Linked DNA regions of Homo sapiens. The protein of the gene in region 1 interacts with the protein of each later gene in a pairwise test. Each region holds a gene or a part of one and is shown on either strand. Other genes may lie near its edges. The genes, in order: ZMYM3 and RNASEH2B.

Region 1 (5,307 bases):
GAACTCCTGGGTTCAAGGAATCCTCCCACCTTGGCCTCCCAAAGTACTGGGATTACAGACGCAAGCCACTGCACCCAGCCTCCCTGTAAACCTGAAGTGAGTTATTTATTCCTCTGTCCTCCCATAGCACTATTCATTTTATTCTGCCTGTATTATGACTAATTGTGTACTATTTGGTCTCCCCTATAGCCTGGGAGCCTGCTGGGGATTGGATCCTGGTCTAACCAGTCTTTTTGTATTTTTTGAAGCACGTAATCTAGGTCTTTAAACATAATAGGTCCTTAATACATAGCTAGTGAGTGAGTATTTTTTTTTCCTTAAGTGTTTGGAAACTTGTTATAAAAAAAAAACAAAAACAAAAACAAAAAAAACAAAAAAAACACCACATTCCCAGTAGATCCAAAGTAAGACAGTAAAGTAAGAACGATTCTCAAACACCTGACTTGTTTACACTTGGAGAGATTTGAAGTTATCCAGTGTTGCTCCTCTATATCCATCACCCAGAAAAGACAAAAGACAATTTTAACTCTTTATTTGAAACAAACAATTTCAGAGACAGAAGGTTAGTCGTGACAACAGCTTCTCACTACAACACAAGGGTGGGCATGGCTCACTGAAGGGACAGGCCAGGCGCCTCAGAACAATATATACAATTTAAACAGTGGCTAACTGGTGACAGTTATAAAAACACAAAAAGGAGCCTGGGAAACAGCAAAGTCAACAGGGAAAGAAGTGGGTACCCCCTTTGCCAGAAGCTAATTGTTTTCTGGGACCTCCAATGCAAGATGGGGAAGAGAGAAGATGTAGGCAGTGGCGGCAGGCCCTGCGCCCACAGCTCCTCGCCTGTCCTTTGACCACAGATCCCATCCTGCATGACTCAAGGTCCCATAGGCTTGGCCTAGCTCTTATGATAGGGGAACAATAGAGGGGAACCCAGCCTCAACCCAAGTCAGAAGGTAGTTTTTGCCTTGGGAGGTCTGTCCATTGAACTAAAGGGAGGCAGTTACAGAGGGGGCTAAGCATGTTGACACCATGGCTCATGGCAACCTAAGATGGCAGAGAGACAAACACAGAAACCAAGGGGACAGGAGTCTGCACAACAGGAGTCTGCTCCCCGTACTTAGTCATTCTCTGCCTCTGAGGAAAAAAAGGCATTTGGAAGATTTTAAAAACGGCAGCACCAAGGATTGGTGCTTGCCGAGGGGGTGAGGGATATGCGGTGGTGAGATGGTGCCAACAACCAATTATTTCATAGGAGGGGAAGAGTGTCTAAGCTCTGTGTTTTATGTAAATGGTCCCCTCATCGCTTTCATTGTTTATTTCTTACCTTTCAGATAAGACCTTTTGGCATGGTGCTGGGGAAGAGTAGAGAAGGGAGTGGGCACAGGGCAGAGAAGGCAGCTGGGTTTTTCCCTAGGTCATGCCTAGGAACAAGAGGCTCTACCTATGCGGGATGGGTCAGGAAACCCAAAGCCAACAGGATCACCAGAGCTATTAACACTCCACCCAGAGTCTGGACCCAGAAGGAGGGGTTTACTCTGAAGCATAAAGAAAACGGGCAAGCTGGCTTTTGCCCATCACTGGGAGACCAGCCCCTGAGTACAGAAGACCAGGGCCCCATGGTTGTCAAGTGGTACGGAAGAAGATAAAAGCCAGGGTTCCTAGAGAAGGCAGGGAATGGGTGAGCGGAAAGGAGCAGTCAGGGCCCTTCAGAATGAGTAGCATTGGTTCCTGGGCCTGTCACCCTGAGGGACATGGCCACAGGACAGACATTGATGTGAAAGATGGATATGGATGGCACACGAGCTCAGTCCAGGTCTTCCTCCCCAGGACGACCCAGTTCCTCATAAATCTCGCGCACAGCCAGGATGCGATTGAGCATGCTCTCCAACATGCTGCGGTCCATGGGGATCACAGAATACCAGAGAGGTGACTCGGCGATGCAGGACCGTTCAGGTTGCAGGTAGAACACATCGTTGCGAGTCCGGAGGCTTTCAGGACTGCAACATCGGGGGTGGGAGTGGGAGTGGGGGTGGCAGGACAGAAGATCAGTACCAAGGCAAAGTAGATCCCTCGGGTCCCCATGCTAACGCTTTTCCTGCCAACCCACCAACTCACCATTTTGAGAGATAGAATTCATAGAACTTGACAGGGCAGCGGAGGGGATTCATGCGGTTCTCACGCTGCTCTAAGATAGGGGCTTCATCTTCTCTCTTCCGTTTTCCAGGACCCGTGTCTATAGGGGAGGGAAATGATTCAGACTCATTAAGAACACAGGCTCCATGAGCCACATCCAAGAGCACAGTTCAGGGCACAGGGAGAAGGCGTCACGACACAAATTACAGTCTCATCAAGATGGAGAGGTGGAAGAAGAGGTCAGTCTCCCTCTCCCACGCCAACCCAACATCCTGTCGGGCTGTTGTTATGCAACCCTCCCCAGTTCCCACTGCCAAAGACTCTCTTTAAAATCTCCCCCAAGTTGCTATCTTGAAGAGGTGATCTCAGAAGTTATTCAAAAGACCTGATAAAACAGACCCTACTGCAAGGGTGGGCTTGCCTTCTGGGATAGAGAAACAGCAATGACCCCAACCCCTTGTGCATTAGTCCAGGTAGAAGCATGGGTCCAGAGAAAGGACCTTGGAAACTTCACTCAGACAGGACAGAAGTCCAGGGACAGAAAAAATGGAAACCAAGGTGCAGTTGTTGTTAGACCCGATAGCAAAGAATCACAGAAAGCCTGTCATTCTACCCTCCCCGACAGCCAAACACACCCAATGGTTTCCTACCTGTCCACCACCCAGAAAAAGCAGGCAAGCAAGTAAACTGTCTTAAATGAGGAAAGAGGGGAAACAGGCCAGAGGGTGACCTCTTATTTATGCAACAGCTACTGCCTATCAGGTAGGAGGACTGGCTGTTTCTACCCTTTCTGCACACAGGAACAGGAGAGGGAAGCTAGGCGCCAAGGAGAGGGCCGACCTGGCAGGTATGGTGGGTTATGGCAGGGCATGGAAGGGGAAGGCAGAGAAGGGGCAAAAGCACAGGGGAGGGGGCAGCCTCGTACCTCGCCCTTTCCTCTGGCGGACTGGGGCATAGTAGCGGATGCTCACCACCTTGGTGGTGCCCCGAGGGGTGGTACACTTGCGGGACTGCCGCACCACATTGGTGAAGGAGAGTTGCATGTGTTCCTCAGCTGTCTGCAGCCCAAAAAACTTAGTGTTGAAGAACATGAGGGTGTTGAGGAGGACAAAGGGCGAGTAGACCCCCAGTTGCTTACACTCCCAGAGGTGCTCCTCCTCCACTCGAGAGAACACCGTATCTACAATGGTCAAGGGGGAGAGGCCAGTCAGGAGGGAGTGGCTACCCAAACCCAACCACTTCCCATCCCATGTGCCCTGCTCATTTCCCACACAATTCTCATTTGGTGAGTAACCTTTGTATATAAAACACTGTCACTTCGCTACACTTGCTACACTACACAGTGGGACTGGGCTTTAAAAAATATATACTTTCCACACCTGCATTTGGAACGCCTCTCACCACCCTCAAGTTGTAGACAAGTAAATGTAAACCTTGAGGAGTCCCACGATTTCTTGCTTTCTTTCTTTACTTACCACCCAAACCCAGGCCATCTTTTTCTGGTCCTAGAGATAGCTCTTCAGACCTAAGTCTTGATCCCCATCTCACGTTCAAGAACAGGCGCTCCTGTGCTCCTTTAACTCTAAACCCTGAGGCATCCAGCTACACGCTCCTGCCCTCGGGCCCTTTGTGAAGAGTGGCAGACCAAACAGCACAGGACTCTCGGGATGGTGGATTGGAAGAATGGAGAAAGCGGGTAGGGGTTGCTACGTCCCTGTTCCTTACTGTTGGGGAGGAGTGTGGGCTGCCAGGTACTCAGAGACTTGTTGAGTTCTTGAACAAAAGTCAGGTAGTAAAGGTCCGTGAAAATGTTCACCATCCGGTTATTTTCCAGCAAGTACTGGGGAAAGAAAAACAGACACACCTAAGGCTAGACTGTAGGTCCTAGAAGAAAGATAATGATGCTGAAGCCCCCAGGTATGGTGTCCTTGATCATTAGGAGACGATGGGAAACAGTTGCTTGATTAGGTGGCCTCGAGTGCTTTCCCCCAGGTATACCCACAGCTCTGCGCTACTCAGGCTTTGCTCGAAGAGGAGGAGGCTTGGAGGAGATGTTCTTTAGAAGCCCACACCTCCTTCTCAGGTAATACATGGTTGACTTCTCCCAGGGGGAACTAAACATTACCCCAGCACTCAAGGATCCCAGCTCCACCCATCCCTCCCCTCCTAGAATGGGCTTAAAGATTACAAAGGGGACCTGGATAGCAATGAAGACTGCTCCTTGGCCAACGGTCCTGGAATGCAGTTTTGATTTTAGAAGAGTATTGATATCTCATGTTCTATTTGGAGTAGGAGATTAAAGGCAAGCTGCCTGCTTCAGGTAGGGGACAAGATGAGGAACAGGGAGTGCAACAGAATAACTGCTTTTTTTTTTCATTAAAAAAATATTTTTTGGGTAGATGGGTATCACTTTGTTGCCCAGGCTGGTCTCAAACTCCTGGCTTGAAGCGATCCTCCTGCCTCAGCCTCCCAAAGTGTTGGGATTACAGGCGTGAGCCACCGTGCCTAACCCAGAATCATTTCTGTTTAGACCCTGCCTGCTGTGTTAAGAGTGACAGGAAGTGAGGTGGTGCACAAGAGGTACCTGCTGGATGCCAAGACACAAATAGTAGATACTGTCAGGTTCATATCGTTCACCATTGGGCCGAGTGATTTCTCTCACAAACTGGGCCAGACCGTAGTTGAGCTCAGCAGCTGAGCAGGCGAGAATATCCTCTTTGATACGCATGGGTTTGGCTGCAGTGATATGTTGTGCAGGGACAGGATTAAGAAAAACTCTACATGGAGAATTTCACTTAGCTCCATCACCATTAACCCCTCCATCCCTTAGTCATGCCTAGCTCCTGAACAATTACAGAAAGAGCCCCTAACCTGGAACCTAGACAGCATTTCCCTTTAATCTACAACTCCTCCCCATCTTCACAGGGCATCCTTAAGGGATCACACCCTTATCACTTCTAGACATCTTCAGCTGAATCACAGGCCCAGCCCCTTCTCCCCTTTCCCCTCCTCCTCCCTGTCCCTGCCTCCCCACACCCCCCATCCCCAAGTACTTACGGCCAAAGCGCAGCTCATCACCCTTGCTGGTTTCTCCATTGGCATATTTTGACTGCACCCAGCACTTCCAAGCATTGACACCATATGAATAGTTGAGCCCGGTACAACTAGGCT
Region 2 (7,290 bases), on another chromosome or scaffold:
CCATGGGCATAACGAATATAATCCTCTGAAAGAAACAGAAGGAGGAGTGAAAGCAAAAAAAAAAAATAGTAATTATGGTGGTTTTATAGTCAAATTGACCTGAATTCAAATTCTGACCCTATCTGGATAAAGGGAACTCACTTAAGCTCTAGCCTCAGTTTTCTCATTTGTAAAATGGGGATAGTAATATCTATCGGTCAGACTAGTGGGAAGATATGAGGGATGAGATATGACATGTGATGATACCAAAGATATAAGATAAAACAAGTATAATACAGTAGATGCTCCCTAAATGACATTAAAAACAAAAACTCAGGGTTGCTTTCTTATTTGAAACCACTGAATACAAATAAAGTTTAAAAATCATCTACAACAATATGAAATAGTCATGTCTTTTTTAAAAGGGTAATCTTTTCTAAGCCTGCTTCAATAAAGAATAAATCTAATTATTCAACAGTAATGAGTGTACTCATTTAAGAGAAATAAAATACCATGTCTCTACTACTAGGTATTTGCTTTATAAGAACCCTGAAATATATATATATAGTTCTATACATACATATTGTTCTATATACATAGTTCTACATACACACACACACACACACACACACACACACACACACACTCCCAAACTAATAAAATACTTAAACTTAAACAACTAACTCAGCAGAATTTATCATCATTAATTCTAAAGCATTTGGATTCTCAGTACTAAAATGCAGCTCTGGCAGCAATTAGAAATACAGTTACATAAGAAGACAATAAAATGTTTCAAAACTCTGTTCCTGAATTCAGTATTTTATGTAGAATACAAGCAGATAATCAAACTTAATCATAAGATGGGATAACCACGTGGGGATATAAAGCACCAAAAGCAGACCCCAGGTTTGCTGCTGGGATATTCACTCACTTCCTTTTTTCCATTCTCCTCTGCTCTCAAGTCAAAGTAACAATTTGCCTCAGTATTACATAGAAAATGACTGCCGTCTGGGGACCACCTGATGTCAAAAAGTCTTCAGTAAGAGATTTTCATTGTCAATGGAGAACTGAAAGTTATCATTTGACCCTTCTTAAAATTGCTCATGGATCTGGGATAGTCATTATCCAATGAGTCATGACTAGACCAAGAAAACTATTTTAAGAAAGTCAACATATAGTTCATTTGCTGCTTCTGGTACCAAACCAACCTAAATATCTAAAAAATGAAATAATGTAAAATATGTAAAGTTTACTTTATGGTCAGGACACTAAATGGCAATATAGCCAAGCCCAGAACCTTAATATGTAGAGTACTGGTAAAAGCACTAGACTTAGAACAGAAGATCTTGAGGATAAGTTACCTACCTCTCCATTTAAAAAATGAGATGATCTGTCTAAATAACCTCTAACATCCCTTCTCCTACTTTTAAAACAAAATCTATGGTTCCATCCATCCATCCATGGATGCATCTATCCACCCACCTATCTATCCATTAATCATCTATCTCAATCCCTCATCTTCTATTGTTAAAGCCAATTAAAGACACTGACAGCTGGTAACTCAGTATGGCAAAGGTGCTGTCCACCACTCCCAGAATGGCAGTAGCCAACTACCTATACATGCAAGGTAGATTCCTGCAAATCAGATTGCCTGAATTACTATCAATCACAAACAGGCCACTATTCCTAGTTTTTATTTATGTAATGACTAAAGCCATATGTATACCCTGAATAAGGGAACAATGAATTGGAGTTTAACGTCAGAATAATTTCTGTCTCACCATTTGAGATTGTTAACTGCATTATATAGCTGTTCTTATTCAACTATACATATAAAAATAAGAGGACTCTACTTGGAAAAGAAAATAATATACCTTTTTTAGATTATAAAAGAATAACCTAAAAGAAAAATTGCCAAGTAAATCAATTTTCATCTAAAATCAAAATATATTGATCCCTGTATCAGGAAACATGCATCTTGAGAAGAAAATGCAAACAGATGCAGCCACTGGAACAGTACAACTGTGCCACAGGAACAGTATCACAAAAAGATTACAAGTGTGGGCTTCAGAGACAAGCTCCATAAGTAGCTCAGCTTTGGCATTTACTAGTTGTGAGACTTTGCACAGGGCCTCAAGATGCTCATTATGAAATTTACTGGGAGGGTTGGATGAGATCATGTTTGTATAGTGGCAACTTAGCAAAGGGCCTGGCACACAATACACCCTCAATAAATGATAGCCAGGGTTGTTACTACTATCAATGTAAAAGAAATATTTGCTGAATAAATAACTTAAGTATCAATGAATGACAGAAGTAACCTATGGTAGAAATATTCTTCGCTTCTGAAATAAGATGCACACCTGCCACAATGTGTATGAGGCATTGGTAGGAATATGAGGCTTCTGTGATATTAAGATTTTTAAATCCTAAGATAGGCATTTACACATAAGCAACTTACTCCAGACAAAAATCTTTTCTGATAAAATGCTTTACTTACCTTCCTTGTCAGTGGAAGCTTGGTCACCAGAGAAAAATGCAGTTGACTGTACCCGGGAACTGACATTCACATTATTGGTTTTTAATGCTGCCACAGTTTGATTAACCTATGAAGCAACCAAGAGGGGAAAGGCAGGGTATTTTCAACTTAACTTTAGAAATCTATGAATTCATAGGTGGCCTTCAGACCATTTAAGAGATCTGCAAAGAAGTATTTGAGAACCTAGAAGTATCTTCACCAGACACCAGAAGATGAGAAATGGTTGCCCATTTGAAGAAAGGCTGAGTGGCAGCAATATCTGGATGATCTCAATACATGGACTTCCATGGCCTACACAATATGAGAAGGCAACATATTGTGATAACTGAGAGCTGACTCTGGAGTCAGGCTGCTGGGCTTGGCTCTGTAACCACGGCTAGTTACTTAACCTTTCTGTGGCTCTATCTGTGAAATGGGGGAAAAAAATAGCATTCACCTCATAAGACTACTGTGAAAATTAAATGAGGTAATATATGTAAATAAAGCCCTTACAATAGAACCTGGCACAAAATTTATATGTAATAACTTCCTAAATAGAATAATATAAATTTCCCACTTCCTAGGAAATATAATCAGTAAGTATAAACTCCTCTTCGCTATTCATGTCATTTTCCTTGGCTAAGAGCAAAAGTAAACATCAAGGATTCTGCTCCGCATTTATTCTCATTCTTCGCCTACATGGAATACTACTACTACTATATCACAAATAAAAAATGAAACATGGCACTCTAAATCTTTCCACTACTTTGCACATTAGGAGACTGATTATTCTACTGGACTCATTTCCAGCTTCCCAGGCTTTCAATGAGCCTGGTAACATGGTATGACAAATAAACACAATTTATTTATTATTTATTATTATTTATTTTTATTTATTATACTTTAAGTTCTGGGATACATGTGCAGAACATGCAGGTTTGTCATACAGGTATACATGTACCACAGTGGTTTGCTGCACCCATCAACCCATCATCTAGGTTTTAAGCCCCACATGTATTACATATTTGTCCTAATGCTCTCCCTCCTCTTGCCCCTAACCCCCGAAACAGCCCCGGTGTGTGATGTTCCCCTCCCTGTGTTCATGTGTTCTTACTGTTCAACTCCCACTTATGAGAGAGAACATGCAGACAAACATGACTTTTCACACAAAAGATGGAAGAGAATCTTAGGAAACAGTACTACAACTACTGGTATCCACTGATCTTGCAAAAACTTTATCATTATTCTATATGGTTTAGCGAGATTCTTAATCAATGTGAAAGTACATATTATCCTTAGACCAGTGGCTTTCAAAGTTTTTTTTTTATCACAACCCATAGTAAGAAATATACAGCAACCCAATACTTAAACACATATAAATACATTTCACAGAGCCATACTTAATACCTGCCCTTCCTCTGCTATATTTTAACCCATCCCATCCCATCCCGTCCCATCCCATCCCGTCCCGTCCCATCACGTCCCGTCCGTCCCGTCCCATCCCATCCCGTCCTGTCCCGTCCCATCCCATCACAATCTGTTTCATTCCAAGAGAAATACTGGTTGTTACCTACTAAATTGATTTGAAATTCACTGCCCCAGTCCATCCATTAGGTCAAGATTCTTAGAATCACTAAGATACAGGGTTTGCCTGTAAGATGACCCCTCATCAGTGTCCAGACCCTGAGAGCAGGACATACTTCCTCTAAACCTGAACACCTTTGCCTGGCTGTGTCCCTGGGTCCCTTTGCCTGGCTGTGTGTAAGCATCACCCTTGGAGACACCTGCAGGACTGACAGTGGCCAACAAGTGCCAAGCCTGGTATCCTCTTACTTGGAAGACTCAAATCTACACCAACAAATTATTTCATTCCGTAGTAGGAGCAGGGAGAAACGAGAATGCAGGTCACAAGAAAACATAAAGCTAACTTCAGAGATACAGAAGTTAGGGAGGATTAAAAAGTCAAAGCCTTCTTCTCATACTTGGTATCTCTACACAATTTTCCTCTTTTCACTGAATATACAAGATGGTCTCTGGATTCAGACTTACTGCCTTCTCTGAAAATTTCTTAGAGAACTGAATTTTTACTTTTACCACAAGGCACTAGAGAGGAACTATACCTTTTTTTCCAGCCACTTTAATGTCTTCTCTTTGCTGTACTTGTAATATTTCTTGTTGTCTATTTCTGGATTACCTTAAAAGAAAAAAAAGACTCAGCACAATGAATTAAAAAAAAAATAAACTCCTAAGGTTGTATCATATACAAGTTAACCATTTAAAGAATATTTTGTAAGTTTAAATTCTTGAAAAGCTTAATTTACAAACCTGAGAACATACTTGAAATGTTTTTTTAAATGTTAGTAGTAATGTGGCTACCTCAGGAGTCATCAACCACTAAATGAGTAAGAATTTAAGAAAACCTTCAAATTATACAAACAACTCTGTAGAAAAGGTAATTTTAAAACCTCAGCAAACTAATGTGAAAGGAAAATAATCTTGTTGATAGGGACAGGAGGCAGGGAAATTCTGGGCAGAAGAGGGCCGGTCCCTAGCAATGGCTCCACACTCAAGCCAGACTACATTGTGTATTCAGTGGAAGGCTGATCAAAAGAATGCCACCTTTTGTCTCCTATCTATGTCTAACGTGGAAACCCCCACTTTGAGTTGTTGCTGCCTTACTGGACTAAACCAATGTACATCTTACACATATTGATTGATGTCTCATGTCTCCCTGAAATACATAAAAGCAAACTGTACCCCCAACCACCGTGGGGCACATGTCTCAGGACTTCCTGAGGCTGTGTCATGGGTGCATCTTTAACTTTGGTAAAATAAACTTTCCTAAATTGACTGAGACCTGTCTCAGATATTTTGTGTTCACATTAGCATACTAAGCAGTCTTAACTGTTCTGAATAATTTTAAGCTCACCTCAATGTTTTCAATGAACCACTTTTTTTCTTAAAATAAAAATGAAAATCCCAATAAAGAAAATTGAAACGAAATGCAGGTATCTATGAAGTTCACTACATACATTCAGGAAAAAAATCTTGTTAACTACTCAGTAGTGGCCTGGTATTGGGGATTGGGGGAGCATTAAAAAAAGATCTATCTATCTTTTAACATATTACCAACATAATCATAGCTATTTGAGAAGATTTAGATTTATGGTAGGCTCAATCTGGCCCTTTATGGAGATAAAAGTTTCACCTCTTATAAATTACACTTAACTTCCCCACAATCCACCCAGCCTTATATACCATGACATTAAACCATGATTTCCTCTGCAACCCTTTTCATTCATGGGATTTCTTCTGTCTGTGCAATTAGCAAGGGCAGCACTTCTATTCCAGCCTCCTCTGTCCATGCAGGATTTATCTTTATGACCACTAGCAACCCTTGGGCCTGATGTGAATTTACCACCTCTGAGTTATATAGAATGAGGCTCTTTCTCCCTCCCACCTTTTGATGGGAAATGAAAACTGCCCATTCAGGGTTCATTTTCTGCAGTCTGTTAAACTGTATGGGAGAGAGGTTGGGAGGTCCCTGGCCTTAGTTCCTGTGAATTTCCTCTCTGTTTCAGCCTATGGTTGTCAATGCTGCAGGCAAGATGAGGCAGGATGGATTGGGGGCTGGACATCTGCAGCCATCTTCTCAGGACATGTCACTACAGTAACAAAAAAGAGGGACAGGTGCAAAAGCATTGTCAGGAGTGTCAGAATTCCAAGGTGCAATGTCTGCTGTTTTGGAGCCAGGACTACCTGGGCAAACAGCCTACTGTAAGCCAAAGCCAATGAGACCGGACTCAATTTCCCTGGAGCCCATGTCCCAACCGATGTACAAACCAGGGGAATTTTAAGAGCATACAGCAATCACTAAATAAATATATGACGCTGAATGGCTTTTAGAAGTTATGTTCATTGCCTGAGGAAAAAAAAACTCCAAAAGAAGCTCACTGCTCAAGGTTCTCCTGAAAATCCTACCCTGATCTGGCATCTCACTTCTTTCTTGCCTCTACCTCCAAATTTTCTCAAAGAATGTCTACCATCTGCTGCTGTTTTCCTTCCTGTCTCCCACTCCCTGAGCCCCACTAGGAGGCTTCTCCTCTACCTCTGGGAATTATTCTCTAAGAAGGGGCAGAGAGCACAGACTGAGCCATGCTACCAGGGCTCATGCATACCCCAGCACATGCTGTCTCCTTGGGAAGCCGCCTCGTGCTCAAAGCCTGTTCCCCCATGTGTAAAGAGAGGTTTTTTTCTCACTGGGCTATTCTGAGCATGAAATGTGATAATCCATACAAATCCTAGAGCACAACACCTGCCACTTAGCAAATACATAATATTAGCTAAGATATTGTGATGAAAAATATGATTTGTTAATAAAACATAAGAAACTAATGTTTATTCAGGTCTGTGCTAGGCACATTTTATACATTTTCTTATTGAATGATCAGAATGAATCTCAGAATCAATTAATAAACCATGATTTGTCCCCATCTTCGAAGACTGGCTCTGAGTGACATGAAGTAAACTCTCCTAAGTCACTGAGGAAGTAGGCAAGAGCACCCAACTCCCAACCATGCTGACATCAAAGCTGTGGATCTGATGTTCACTTTACCAAGATCACTAGGTCTGCACTTTCCTCAGTACCTCCTAACAACCTCTCCTCCATGGCATATATAAAATTGCTTTCTATTTTTTTATGTCTCTAATGACTTATCTGATTCTTTTCCCAGCTCTGCTTCACCCTCCTCCAAAGTCAACTGTATCCTTTCATCTGGTGTGATCTCCTCCTA

The links.
Region 2: the proteins of ZMYM3 (region 1) and RNASEH2B interact in binary tests that used the Homo sapiens proteins (3 or more experiments, as listed by UniProt).

The regions. Positions count from the first base shown.
Region 1 is NC_000023.11:71,239,109-71,244,415, forward strand, and holds the end of ZMYM3 (zinc finger MYM-type protein 3), read right to left. Parts: coding exon 5,194-5,307; intron 4,873-5,193; coding exon 4,721-4,872; intron 3,977-4,720; coding exon 3,862-3,976; intron 3,317-3,861; coding exon 3,062-3,316; intron 2,237-3,061; coding exon 2,119-2,236; intron 2,001-2,118; coding exon 1,808-2,000; 3' UTR 516-1,807; downstream 1-515. UniProt on the Homo sapiens protein: Plays a role in the regulation of cell morphology and cytoskeletal organization.
Region 2 is NC_000013.11:50,940,722-50,948,011, reverse strand, and holds part of RNASEH2B (ribonuclease H2 subunit B), read right to left. Parts: intron 6,162-7,290; exon of another isoform or gene 5,986-6,161; coding exon of another isoform or gene 5,958-5,985; intron 4,692-5,957; coding exon 4,618-4,691; intron 2,586-4,617; coding exon 2,480-2,585; intron 26-2,479; coding exon 1-25. UniProt on the Homo sapiens protein: Non catalytic subunit of RNase H2, an endonuclease that specifically degrades the RNA of RNA:DNA hybrids. Participates in DNA replication, possibly by mediating the removal of lagging-strand Okazaki fragment RNA primers during DNA replication.